3 linked regions of the Homo sapiens genome follow. The protein of the gene in region 3 binds, or shares a complex with, the protein of the main gene of each other region. Each region holds a gene or a part of one and is shown on either strand. Other genes may lie near its edges. The genes, in order: TTF2, PPP1R8 and AKAP17A.

What was found.
Region 1: AKAP17A (region 3) and TTF2 share a complex: the UniProt entries of both Homo sapiens proteins name them as parts of the spliceosome.
Region 2: AKAP17A (region 3) and PPP1R8 share a complex: the UniProt entries of both Homo sapiens proteins name them as parts of the spliceosome.

The regions. Positions count from the first base shown.
Region 1 is NC_000001.11:117,063,221-117,066,971, reverse strand, and holds part of TTF2 (transcription termination factor 2), read right to left. Parts: intron 1-3,751. UniProt on the Homo sapiens protein: DsDNA-dependent ATPase which acts as a transcription termination factor by coupling ATP hydrolysis with removal of RNA polymerase II from the DNA template. May contribute to mitotic transcription repression. May also be involved in pre-mRNA splicing.
Region 2 is NC_000001.11:27,833,709-27,837,459, reverse strand, and holds part of PPP1R8 (nuclear inhibitor of protein phosphatase 1), read right to left. Parts: intron 3,060-3,751; exon of another isoform or gene 2,894-3,059; intron 1-2,893. UniProt on the Homo sapiens protein: Inhibitor subunit of the major nuclear protein phosphatase-1 (PP-1). It has RNA-binding activity but does not cleave RNA and may target PP-1 to RNA-associated substrates. May also be involved in pre-mRNA splicing.
Region 3 is NC_000023.11:1,589,965-1,593,715, forward strand, and holds the start of AKAP17A (A-kinase anchor protein 17A), read left to right. Parts: upstream 1-1,639; 5' UTR 1,640-1,805; intron 1,806-3,479; 5' UTR 3,480-3,498; coding exon 3,499-3,751. UniProt on the Homo sapiens protein: Splice factor regulating alternative splice site selection for certain mRNA precursors. Mediates regulation of pre-mRNA splicing in a PKA-dependent manner.

The sequences.
Region 1 (3,751 bases), on a different chromosome or scaffold from region 3:
CAGTACTCTGGGAGGCTGAGGCAGGCAGACCACTTGAGGCTAGGAGTTTGAGACCAGCCTGGCCAACATGGCAAAAGCCCATGTCTACTAAAAATACAAAAATTAGCTGGGCGTCGTGACACACACCTGTAATCCCAGCTACTCGGGAGGCTGAGACACGAGAATCACCTGAACCTGGGAGGCAGAGGTCGCAGTGAGCTGAGATTGTGCCACTGTACTCCAGCCTGGTTGACAGAGCAAGACTCTGTCTTTTAAAAAAAAAAAAAAAAAAAAAAAGACATGATTAGTCCAAAGCTGTATGTGTTTGCCACACATCCCAATACTCGACCAACATTACCTTTCTTCCTTGTCCTGCTTAACGTAAACACATTACCCAGAAGCCCCACCTTAGCAACCGTTTCCCTACTGAGCACTGACAATGTGCCAAACACCAGACCGAGGCCATCACACACGTTCTCTCTCCAAGTCCTCCAACCCAGGGAAGTTAGGGCCATGTGAGCAATATTCCAGATGAAAAAATGGAGGAAGGAACACGTTTATATGCCCTACCAGGAAATACATCTCATCAGTGCTCTTTCAGCAAGTTTTCATTCTACTTGGACCCAATTCCACTGCTGCTACTTCAATTCAGGCCCATCACCTCTCACTTAAGAGAAAGTTGGTGTGTCTGGAATCAGTTGGACCTGGGTTTAAATCCCAGCAATGCCACTTCATAACCATGGGTCCTCAGATTCCCTTTCTGACCTGTTTCAATGGTAGTTTCTCCATCTTTCTGGTAAACACGGATATTGAAATCTATCACAACAAATTATATGAAGGTAAAAGATAATGAACAGGCTGGGTGCAGTGGCCCACACCTGTAATCCCAGTACTTTGGGAGGCTGAGGTAGGAGGATTGCTTGAGCCCAGGAGATTGAGACCAGGCTGGGTAATACAGTGAGACCGTGTCTCTACAAAAAAAAAAAAAAAAAAAAAAAAAAAAAGGTATATAGTGGGCTTTCAATGGTAGCTATTATTTCAGTGGTCTCTTTGCCCTATTTTCACTTTCTAATCTGTCCTCCATAGTTCTTCTTTTAATGCAAATTGGGTCAAAAATCCTTCAGTGGCTTCCTAACAACTACCACAGTATGTCTGTATGGTAAAGGTCCTCCAGTAGTATGTAAATGGTTTTAAGTATCAGTAGAATATAACTTCATGCAATAAAGGCTTACCAGCCCTACTATACCAGCAGAAAACAATCCAAAAACAAAATTAAAAAAAATTCCATTTACAACAGCACTAAAAAACACAAACACTGAGAAATAAATTTAACAAAAGATGCATAGGAACTCTGTAATGAAAAGTATTAAACAATGCTCAGAGACATTTTTTTTTTGAGACAGAGTCTCGCTCTGTCACCCAAGCTGGAGTGCGGTGGCGCGATCCCGGCTCACTGTAAGCTCTGCCTCCGGGTTCACGCCATTCTCCTGCCTCAGCCTCCTGAGTAGCTGGGACTACAGGCGCCTTCCACCATGCCCGGCTAATTTTTAGTATTTTTAGTAGAGATGGGGTTTCACCTTGTTAGCCATGATGGTCTCGATCTCCTGACCTCGTGATCCGCCCGCCTTGGCCTCCCAAAGTGCTAGGATTGCCGCGCCCAGCTGACATTTTTAAAGTCATAAATAAATGCACTACATTCATGGATTGGAAGCCTCAATATTGACAATTCTCTCCAAATTGATCTATATAGATTCAATGCAATCCCAACAGGGTTTTCTGTGGAAATTTTTAAAAGCTGATTCTACATTTTATATGGAAATGCAAAGATCCTAGAGCAGCCAACGCAATCTTGAAAAAGAATAAAGTCAGAAGACTCACACTATTTTATCTGATTAATTATGTAAAGATAGGCAAATGGATCAATGGAACAGATTAGCAACCCCAGAAATAGACTTACATATATTGGATCAATTGAATTTTTACAAAGACGCCAAGCATTTCAATGGGAAAAGGAAAATCTTCAAAACATGATGCTAAAACAATTGGTAACATATGCAAAAATAAATGAACCTCTACCCTACCTGATATACTACACAAAAGTAATTTAAGATATAGATAATAGACCTATATGAAAAAGCTACTAAAAAAAAAAAGAAGAAGAAAAAAAAAAAACAGGCCAGGTGCAGTAGCTCACACCTGTAATCCTAGCACCTTGGGAGGCCAAGATGTGTAGATTGCCTGAGCTCAGGAGTTCGGGACCAGCCTGGGCAACATGGTGAAACTCCGTTTCTACTAAAATACAAAAAAATTATTGGTGCACACCTGTAGTCCCAGCTACTTGGGACTACTTGGGAGGCTGAGGCATAAGAATTGCTTGAACCCAGGAGATGGTGGTTGCAGTGAGCCAAGATTGTACCACGGCACTCCAGCCTGGAAGACAGAGTGAAACTCTCTCTCTCAAAAACAAACAAACAAACAAACAAAAATAAAACTATAAAGCTTCTAGACAATTCTTGGAAATATTTGTGATATTGGGGTAGGCAAAGATTTCTTGGAGATCAGACAAAAAGCACAAACCATACAAAAATGATGAGCCTCCCGAGTAGCTGAGACTTCAGGAGTGTGCCACCAGGCCCAGCTAATTTTTTTTTGTTTTTTCACTTTTTTTTATTTAGTAGAGATGGGGTTTCACCATGTTGGTTGGCCAGGCTGGTCTCAAACTCCTAATCTCAAGTGATCTGCCCACTTCAGCCTCCCAAAGTGCTGGGATTACAGGCATGAGCCACCATGCCTGGCCTAACTTGTATAGAGAATTTACAAAGAACTCTACCAACTCAGTTTTAAAAAAAGACAAAAATTTTAAAACAGGCAAAGATCTCCAAAGTTATACTTTATGATTCCACTTATGTAACAATTGTGCAATGACAAAATTTTAGAAATGAAAAGCAAATTCCTGATTGCCGGAGTGAAGAGGGCAGAAGGGAGGGAAGGGGGTATGGTTATAGAAAGGGCAACAGAGAGATCCTGTGATGGAACTCTTCAGTACCTTGACTGTAGTGGTAGATACATGACTCGACAGGATAAAATTGTATAGAATATACACACACACATAAATTAGTTCAAGTAAAACTACCTTTACCAATAAAACTGGTGGGTTGTACCAATATTAATATCCTGTTTGTGATATATTTCTAAGCCTTGCAAACGTTACCATTGGGGGAAACTGGATAAAGTCTACAGGGGATAACTCTGTATTATTCCTTACAACTGTATGTGAATCTAAAACTACTTGATAAAAATTTCAATGCAAAAAAAAGGATAAAATATTTAAACAGATAACGTCGAGATTTTCTGATGGCAAATAGGCACACCAAACAAAGTGGTGCATTTATAAATGAAATTCAACTCCACAATAAAAATGAATGAATTACTGATACATATTATATACATTTCACATACTGTTAAGTAAAAGAAGTCAGACACAGAAGAGTACATGCAGTAGGATTTCATTTATATAACGTTCAAGAACAATCAAAACACATCTAAAGAGATAAAAATCAGAACAGTGATTGCTGACAGGGGTGGAGATGGGAGGGGTGAAATTAACTTGAAGGGGACTGATGGCACTTATTGGGGTAATATTTTGACTCGGATCTTGGTTTTATGAGCAGGTACATGCATTCTCAAAACTCAACTGGTTGAAATCTTAAGACTTGTGTATCTTACTATACATATAACTAAATTAAGAAAAATAGAAGTATGAACAGTACTC
Region 2 (3,751 bases), on a different chromosome or scaffold from region 3:
GCCCTCAAGACAGTAACAACTCTTTTTTTTTTTTGAGACGAGTCTCTGTCACCCAGGCTGGAGTGCAGTGGCGTGATCTCGGCTCACTACAAGCTCTGCCTCCCGGGTTCACACCATTCTCCTGCCTCAGCCTCCCGAGTAGCTGGGACTACAGGCGTGTGCCACCACGCCCAGCTAATTTTTTGTATTTTTAGAAGAGACAGGGTTTCACCGTGTTAGCCAGGATGGTCTTGATCTCCTGACCTCATGATCCACCCGCCTCAGACTCCCAAAGTGCTGGGATTACAGGGGTGAGCCACCGTGCCTGGCCTGAGATCAACAATTGTATGAAGAGTGGCTGTCTTCTGAAAAAAGGTTCTGTTGGATCTTAATTTTAGATCAATTAGGAAACAAGAAGCACAATGCATGTCTATAAGGTAACAAGATTGCTTTTAGCCTAGTGAAACCGAAAAAAATTGTAATAAGATTGCTTCTCAGAAAATAAACATTCAAATGTATATTTGGGAAAGGAATGAAGTGTAAACACCTATTTCTATTCTAATCATGCTGCCATAGTCCCAAAGTATTTTTGTTTGTTTTTGAGACAGTCTCAAAACAAACAAGTTTCACCATGTTGCCCAGGCTGGTCTCGAACTCCTCACCTCAGGTGAATGGCCAGCCTCAACCTCCCAAAGTGCTGGGATTACCGGTGTTAGCCACCGTGCTAGACCTGAGCTAAATTTAGCTTTATAAAAAACTTGCTGGCCGGGTGCGGTGGCTCAAACCTGTAATCCCAGCACTTTGGGAGGCCGAGGCAGGCGGATCACAAGGTCAGGAGATCAAAACCATCCTGGCTAACACAGTGAAACCCCGTCTCTACTAAAAATACAAAAAAAAAATTAGCCGGGCGTGGTGGCAGGTGCCTGTAGTCCCAGCTACTCGGGAGGCTGAGGCAGGAGAATGGCATGAGCCCGGGAGGCAGAGCTTGCAGTGAGCCGAGATCGGCCACTGCACTCCAGCCTGGGCGACAGAGCAAGACTCTATCTCGAAAACAAAAACAAACAAAAAAATAAAAATAAAAAACTTGCTATACCTGTCCTTATATTTCTTTTAATCCTGGATCAGTAAAGCCTTTGCCACAGATCGGTTATAAACTGGACTGTTATAGATGAAGGACTCTAGATGAATTATTGCTAAAGCTTCTTCCAGTGCTAGTGGTCTAGTAATCCAGTGGGAGCACTTGAGGAATAACTCTCATTTGGGTATGTTGTGTTTTTCCTTTAAACATGAGGTCTCATTAAACGCTAGTTCACATTTCACACTATAGTCCTAAAATCCCTGAGAAAATATAGCATAAAGCTGAGTAGAGTATAGTCAAGTTAGTACCCGGCTGGGAATCAAGAAGCTTATATTTCATTCCTGGCTAAGTCCTTTAACTCACAATGGGCTGCTATTATCCCCTTACAAAACCAAAAGATACACCTCATGCAAGCACAATTTCAGCACTGATTACAGTAACAACTGCTAGGCGCTTCTATGCCACACACTATGCTATGAGTTTTACATTATATCATTTCATCCTCACAACCACCCTATGAGGTGGGTAATACTATTCTCTTCCTATTTTTATAAATGACAAAATTGAGGCATAAAGAAATTAACATACTCAAGTTCACACAGTTAGATACTTGTGGGCCGGGTTAGAAATTCAGATTTGTCTGGCTTCAGAGTCTAAGCTGTTTTAACCACATTATATATTTTCTTCATTCTACTTACATCAAAAAATGCACCATATGGCAAGGAATATTTTAAGGAGAGAATAAGTACTGTGGGTCACACTCTTTTCCTTAAACAATCACTTAGCCAGTTTCTTTCAAGCTCAGCCTTAAGGTTCAATTAATTCAGGCTAGCTTGGATATGTGGGTCACCTCTGGGAAACCCTATCTGGCAGTGCCCATCTGCTGCTGGAAGAGCTTGTTCTGGGCCCACACTACTATGGAGAACCAAGATTCAACAACAGCCTGACAGCTCAGTCAGTCACCTTCATGTCTGCTTTGACCCAAGGTTTTTAAGACTTGAGTTAAAAATAAGACATTATTTCAGGATTAAGAGAGAGCCCAGAAATTTCAACAACTTGTTCTCTCTAGGTAATAGTTATTTGGGCTGAATCTCATTGCACTTCTCATTCATATTTATATGCACATGGATTATGCTGTCACAAACTTAAATTTGCTAACCACAGTGCTCACAGATTGTGCTGAAGGAACATGAAAGACCACCAGCTCTTGGGTTCTAAAATAACAATGACTAAATTTCTATGAATCTAGGGTGCCAAAAGACATACTAGAGATTTAGGGATTTCTTTGAGAGGAAAAAAAAAGAGTGCCTCCAAATTAAATGTACACATTCAGTATTAAAGGCACCCCAATTACAGAAATGTTAAAATGAATGAATTTTTTTTTTGAGATGGAGTCTTGCTTTGTTGCCTAGGCTGCAGTGCAGTGGTGCAATCTCCACTCACTGCAAACTCTGCCTCCTGGGTTCAAGCGATTCTCCTGCCTCAGCCTCCCAAGTAGCTGGGATTATAGGGGTGTGCCACTGCACCTGGCTAATTTTTTTACTTTTAGTAGAGACGGGGTTTTGCCATGCTGGCCAGCCTGGTCTTGAACTCCTGACCTCAGGTGATCTGCCCGCCTCGGCCTCCCAAAGTGCTGGGAGGCCAGGTGTGAGCCGCCACCGCACCTGGCCAAAATGTATGGAATTTTAACAGAAAACAGTATGTCTTAGAACCAAGGAAATGTGTTAGATGTTGAACAATGTGCTGCTTCTGTCCAAGTGAATGAAATAATGCACTGGCTTTCAACAGTCACTAAAGCCGTAGCTTCTTGACTAGCTATGGCCAGTACTGCTATCCAGTTGTGCCTCTGAGTTATAACTCAGAGTGTATCTTTACACACTGGGCTTAAAAGACTCATGGCTTTTGTTTTAATATTGCACTTCTTAAACCCAGCTATCACAACACATCACAAGCCTTTGACACAAGGCTAGGATATAGACAGCTCGGTTAGTATCAAGTGCTGATCAAGTTTAAATCTAAAAATAAGCACATCTCAGGTCTACGCCTCTCAAGAATACAGTGATGTCTAAGGATTGTAACTTGACAACTTTGTGGCAACTCAGCACACTTAACAACATCGAAAGAGAACGTTATCAGCTAATAGACACCAATGATCAGAGGAGTGTCTGGCAAGTTAGAGTGTTTTGAAAATGTAATACCAATTATTCCACAAAGGAATGTGATGTTATCATTAAGACTAGGCAACCCTGTCTGTTTCTTCCTGTTGCAAACTAAAGATTTGCTAAATTCTAGTAATAAAACAGATCCCTATATGTCTTCAAGCTTTGTGCTATTCAGCAACAAATATTTTGTAACTGTGGAACAATCTATAGCAAAAAAGGTTTTACAGATATTTTAGCTAAATTATTTCTTTGAATAATCTTGAGGTTTTAAATCTTTAAGAGAGAAGAACCCATGACAAAGGGGCTCTCTGTGACTGGCTGAGTCCATGATGTATTCATAACAGGAGAAATCATTAAAACTCGTGCATGCCTTAATACTTTGCAAAATACCTGGTTATCTCTACAACATCTCAAAAGTGACAACAATATATTTACAGAGTAACCTTCAAAAGATCTCAGATAGCTTTTCAATCTAGCAACCGTGGAACTGCAACATTTTTATTAAATACCAAAAAACCACAATGAAAAAACT
Region 3 (3,751 bases):
GAGCAATGCAAGATTTCTGTTCTGATTATCTGACCCTGGATATCCAGTTTGGGGACTTGTGACATATTTGGGACGTCAGAAGCACGTACCTCTCACATAGAGCATGGCATACTTAATAAACAATAAATTATAATAAAAAATGAATAATGCATTATAAATTATCATTACTTATTTATTTATTTATTGGAGACAGAGTCTCGCTCTGTTGCCCAGGATGGAGTGCAGTGGCGCCATCTTCGCTCACTGCAACCTCTGCCTCCTGGGTTCAAGTGATTCTCGGGCCTGCCTCAGCCTCCTGAGTAGCTGGGACTATAGGCAACCACCTCCACACCCGGCTAGTTTTTTGTCTTTTTAGTAGAGACGGGGTTTCACCATGCTGGCCAGGCTGGTCTTTTTTTTGTTTTGTTTTGACATGGAGTCTCGCTCTGTCAACCAGGCTGGAGTGCAGTGGCACGGTCTCACTGCAAGCCCCACCTCCCAGGTTCACGCCATTCTCCTGCCACAGCCTCCCGAGTAGCTGGTAGCTGGGACTACAGGTGCCCACCACCACGCCCGGCTGATTATTTTTTGTATTTTAGTAAAGACGGGGTTTCATCGTGTTAGCCAGGATGGTCTCGATCTCCTGACCTCATCATCCGCACATCTCGGCCTCCCAAAGTGCTGGGATTACAGGCATGAGCCACCGGGCCCGGCCCCAGGCTGGTCTTGAACTCCTGACCTTGTGATCTGCCCGCCTTGGCCCTCCAAAGTGCTGGCATTACAGACGTGAGCCACCGCACCTGGCCTCATTTATTATTTTGTAATCACATTATAAATTGTCATTTATTATTTCATAATTACATTATAAATGATCATTTCAGAATTACATTATATATTTTCATTTATTTCATAATTACACTATAGATTATCATTTATTATTCCAAAATTACATTATAAATTATGATTATATTATACAATAGCATTTGCTTCATAATTACATTAGATTATCATTTATTTTTAAATTACATTATATTTATTTCATAATTACATTATAAATTATCTTATAATTAGAAATGATCATTTATTTCATAATTGCAATATAAATTATTATTAATTTCATAATACCATTGTAAGTTATCATTTATTATTTCATAATTACATTATGTAATGGTATGCGTTAATAATTATTAATATACAATTAATAATTATTAACCATTCAATTAATAGTTAATTAACTAGCAATTTATATGTAATTCTATAATTACGTCATAGAATATGATATCTAATTTATACATAAATTATATTATTCAAGTATATTACCCATAATTTGCAAGTATAGTATAGAATCCCGTTATAGGATCCTATTACATTTTAGAATTTTGTTATATATATTTGACTCTACAATTGGAATTTAGACCCCACACCGGCCCCCCTCCTGTTTGGCTTAAGGGCTATGACCACAGACCCTGGCCCAAGTACCTCCCCTGGTTACCCGCAGGCAGGTGGCACCATGGGGGCGGGGCGGACTCGCGCACGCGCAGTGCAAAAGGTCGGGCTCCCGGAAGTCCCTCCTCCCGGGGGCGGAGCCAGGGCAAGAAGGAGAAACCCGGTGCTGCCGCGCGGCCTCTTCCGCGAGCCCGCGCGCCGGAAGTGGAAATGCGTCATAGAGGGCGGGCGGCGACGGCGGTGGCGGCGTCGGAGGCGCCTCCGGGGGACGGTGGCGGCTCCCGGCGGTGAGGCCGCGCCTGTCCGGGGATCGTCGAGGGACGGCGGGAGCTTGGGCCAGCGGCGGCGGCGGCCTGGGACGCAGGCGGAGCCCCGCGCAGGTGAGTGCCGCCCCCGTGCCTCCCGGGCCTGGCTGCAGCCGGCGAACGCTTCGCTCCTAGGGCCGGGCCCGGGGGGCCGGGGCTTGGGAGGCGGCGCCTAGGGGCCTCGGAGGTGACGGGGCTGGGGTTGGGGGGCGTGGGGTGCCACCGGGGGGCTGGGAGCGCCTGAAACTGTACGGGGGAATCGGGGGCTGGGGAGGTCTGCGGTCGGGGTCCGGGGGTCCCTGGAAGTAGGGGTAGGGGCTGGAGCGGTTCCTGGGACTGCACCGAAGGAGCTGAGGCCTGGAGCGGTGTCGGAGGGCTGGGAGCTCGGGGGATCGGATGGGCGGGAGACTAGGAGGCCTGGGACTAGGGGACGTGGCGCTGCGGTCGCTCCTAGGTCTACAGTGGGAAGCAAGGGGCTGTCCGGGGTTTTCGGAGGCTGGGGCGGTGCTGTGTAGGTTGGGGTATTGGGGCTCATCCAGGAGGGTGGTGGGGAGCGGGGAACTGAGGAGCTGAGGGTACCGAGTGGCCAAGGGCCTGAGAATGTGTGGGGCCCTGCCAGGGGTGCCAGCGGCAGCCTGAGGCCATGCTGGGGGGCTGCGGTAGGTGGGAATACCAGGGGCAATGCCGCGTACTGGGGATTGGGCAGCCAGGTGTACCGGGGTGGTCGGAGGGCGCTGGAGGCCAGAGTGGGGAGGGTTCCTCGGTGGTGAAGTTGCTGGGGCCGCTTGGGTTCTGGGGGAGGGTTCACTGGTCTCTGTCCAGACTGGAGCCCCTCCCTGGTGCCCCACTGACCTTTTCTGGTCGCTTCTCCACCCTCCCTCCCTTCTTTCGCACCTCCCACCTCGGGCTTGGGCGAGGAGGCCGTCTCCTGGGCCTGGCAGGAAGCCTCCAGGTTGATGGGGTGGGCGGCCGGGCCGGAGGCGGTCACCTGAGATGGTTGGGTTTCTGCGAGTGAAGCTTCCTCTACTTGGACTTGGCCGTCAGGAAGTGGCTGCCCGTCAGCTCAGCAGGGAAGAGGTGGGTTAATGAAGGTGGGCGGAGAAAGAAGGCGCAGACGGGGGACTCCGGCCCCTAACTTGTGGAAAGTTCGTTGTACTTTTTGGCTTTGAGTGGGTTAAAGCTGGGATACGTTTGGCCTTCGTGGAGATTACTAGGGTTCATGGTTCTGGATTGTTGTTGCAGCCCGAGACTTCCTGTTTTATCAGGGCAAGTACAGGGCCGCCGCCCCCTCCACAAAACCTTTCCAGATGCCTGCAGCTGTGCTCTCCCTGGCCCCTTCCCTTCCCCAGTGTCTCTCTGCCCCTTCCCGTGGAGCTAGGCGTTTGTAGCGTCCCCGTTCCTACTTGACCTGTGTGAGGGGCCTGGTCGTGCTCAGCTTCCTATTCTGCAGGCCTTGGGAGCTGCTGGCTGCTGGATGTAGGGTGTCGGGCAGTGCTGACCGAGGCTTTGACACTAACCTGTTCTTTATCAGCTCGGCTCTTTCCCCTTTGGTGTACTCTTAATGATTTCAAAAAGTAAAGAACTCCGTTGAGATGGCTGTTAACAAAGTGGAAACCGGTCTCTGACACGGCAGAGAGACACTGCTGTTTCTCTTCTCCGGGTCCAGAAAGTGCCTGCTGGCTTGGCCCCTCCTCATTGGCGGGGGAGGTGGGGGGTGCTGGTGCTGACTGTCTGCGTCTTATGTTTCAGGCCCAAGGTCCCGGAGGCTATGGCAGCGGCTACCATCGTGCACGACACGTCTGAGGCCGTGGAGCTCTGCCCTGCTTACGGCTTGTACCTGAAGCCCATCACCAAGATGACCATCAGCGTGGCACTCCCGCAGCTGAAGCAGCCGGGGAAGTCCATCTCCAACTGGGAGGTGATGGAGAGGCTGAAGGGCATGGTGCAGAACCACCAGTTCTCCACGCTGCGTATTTCCAAGAGCACCATGGACTTCATCCGCTTCGAGGGGGAGGTGGAGA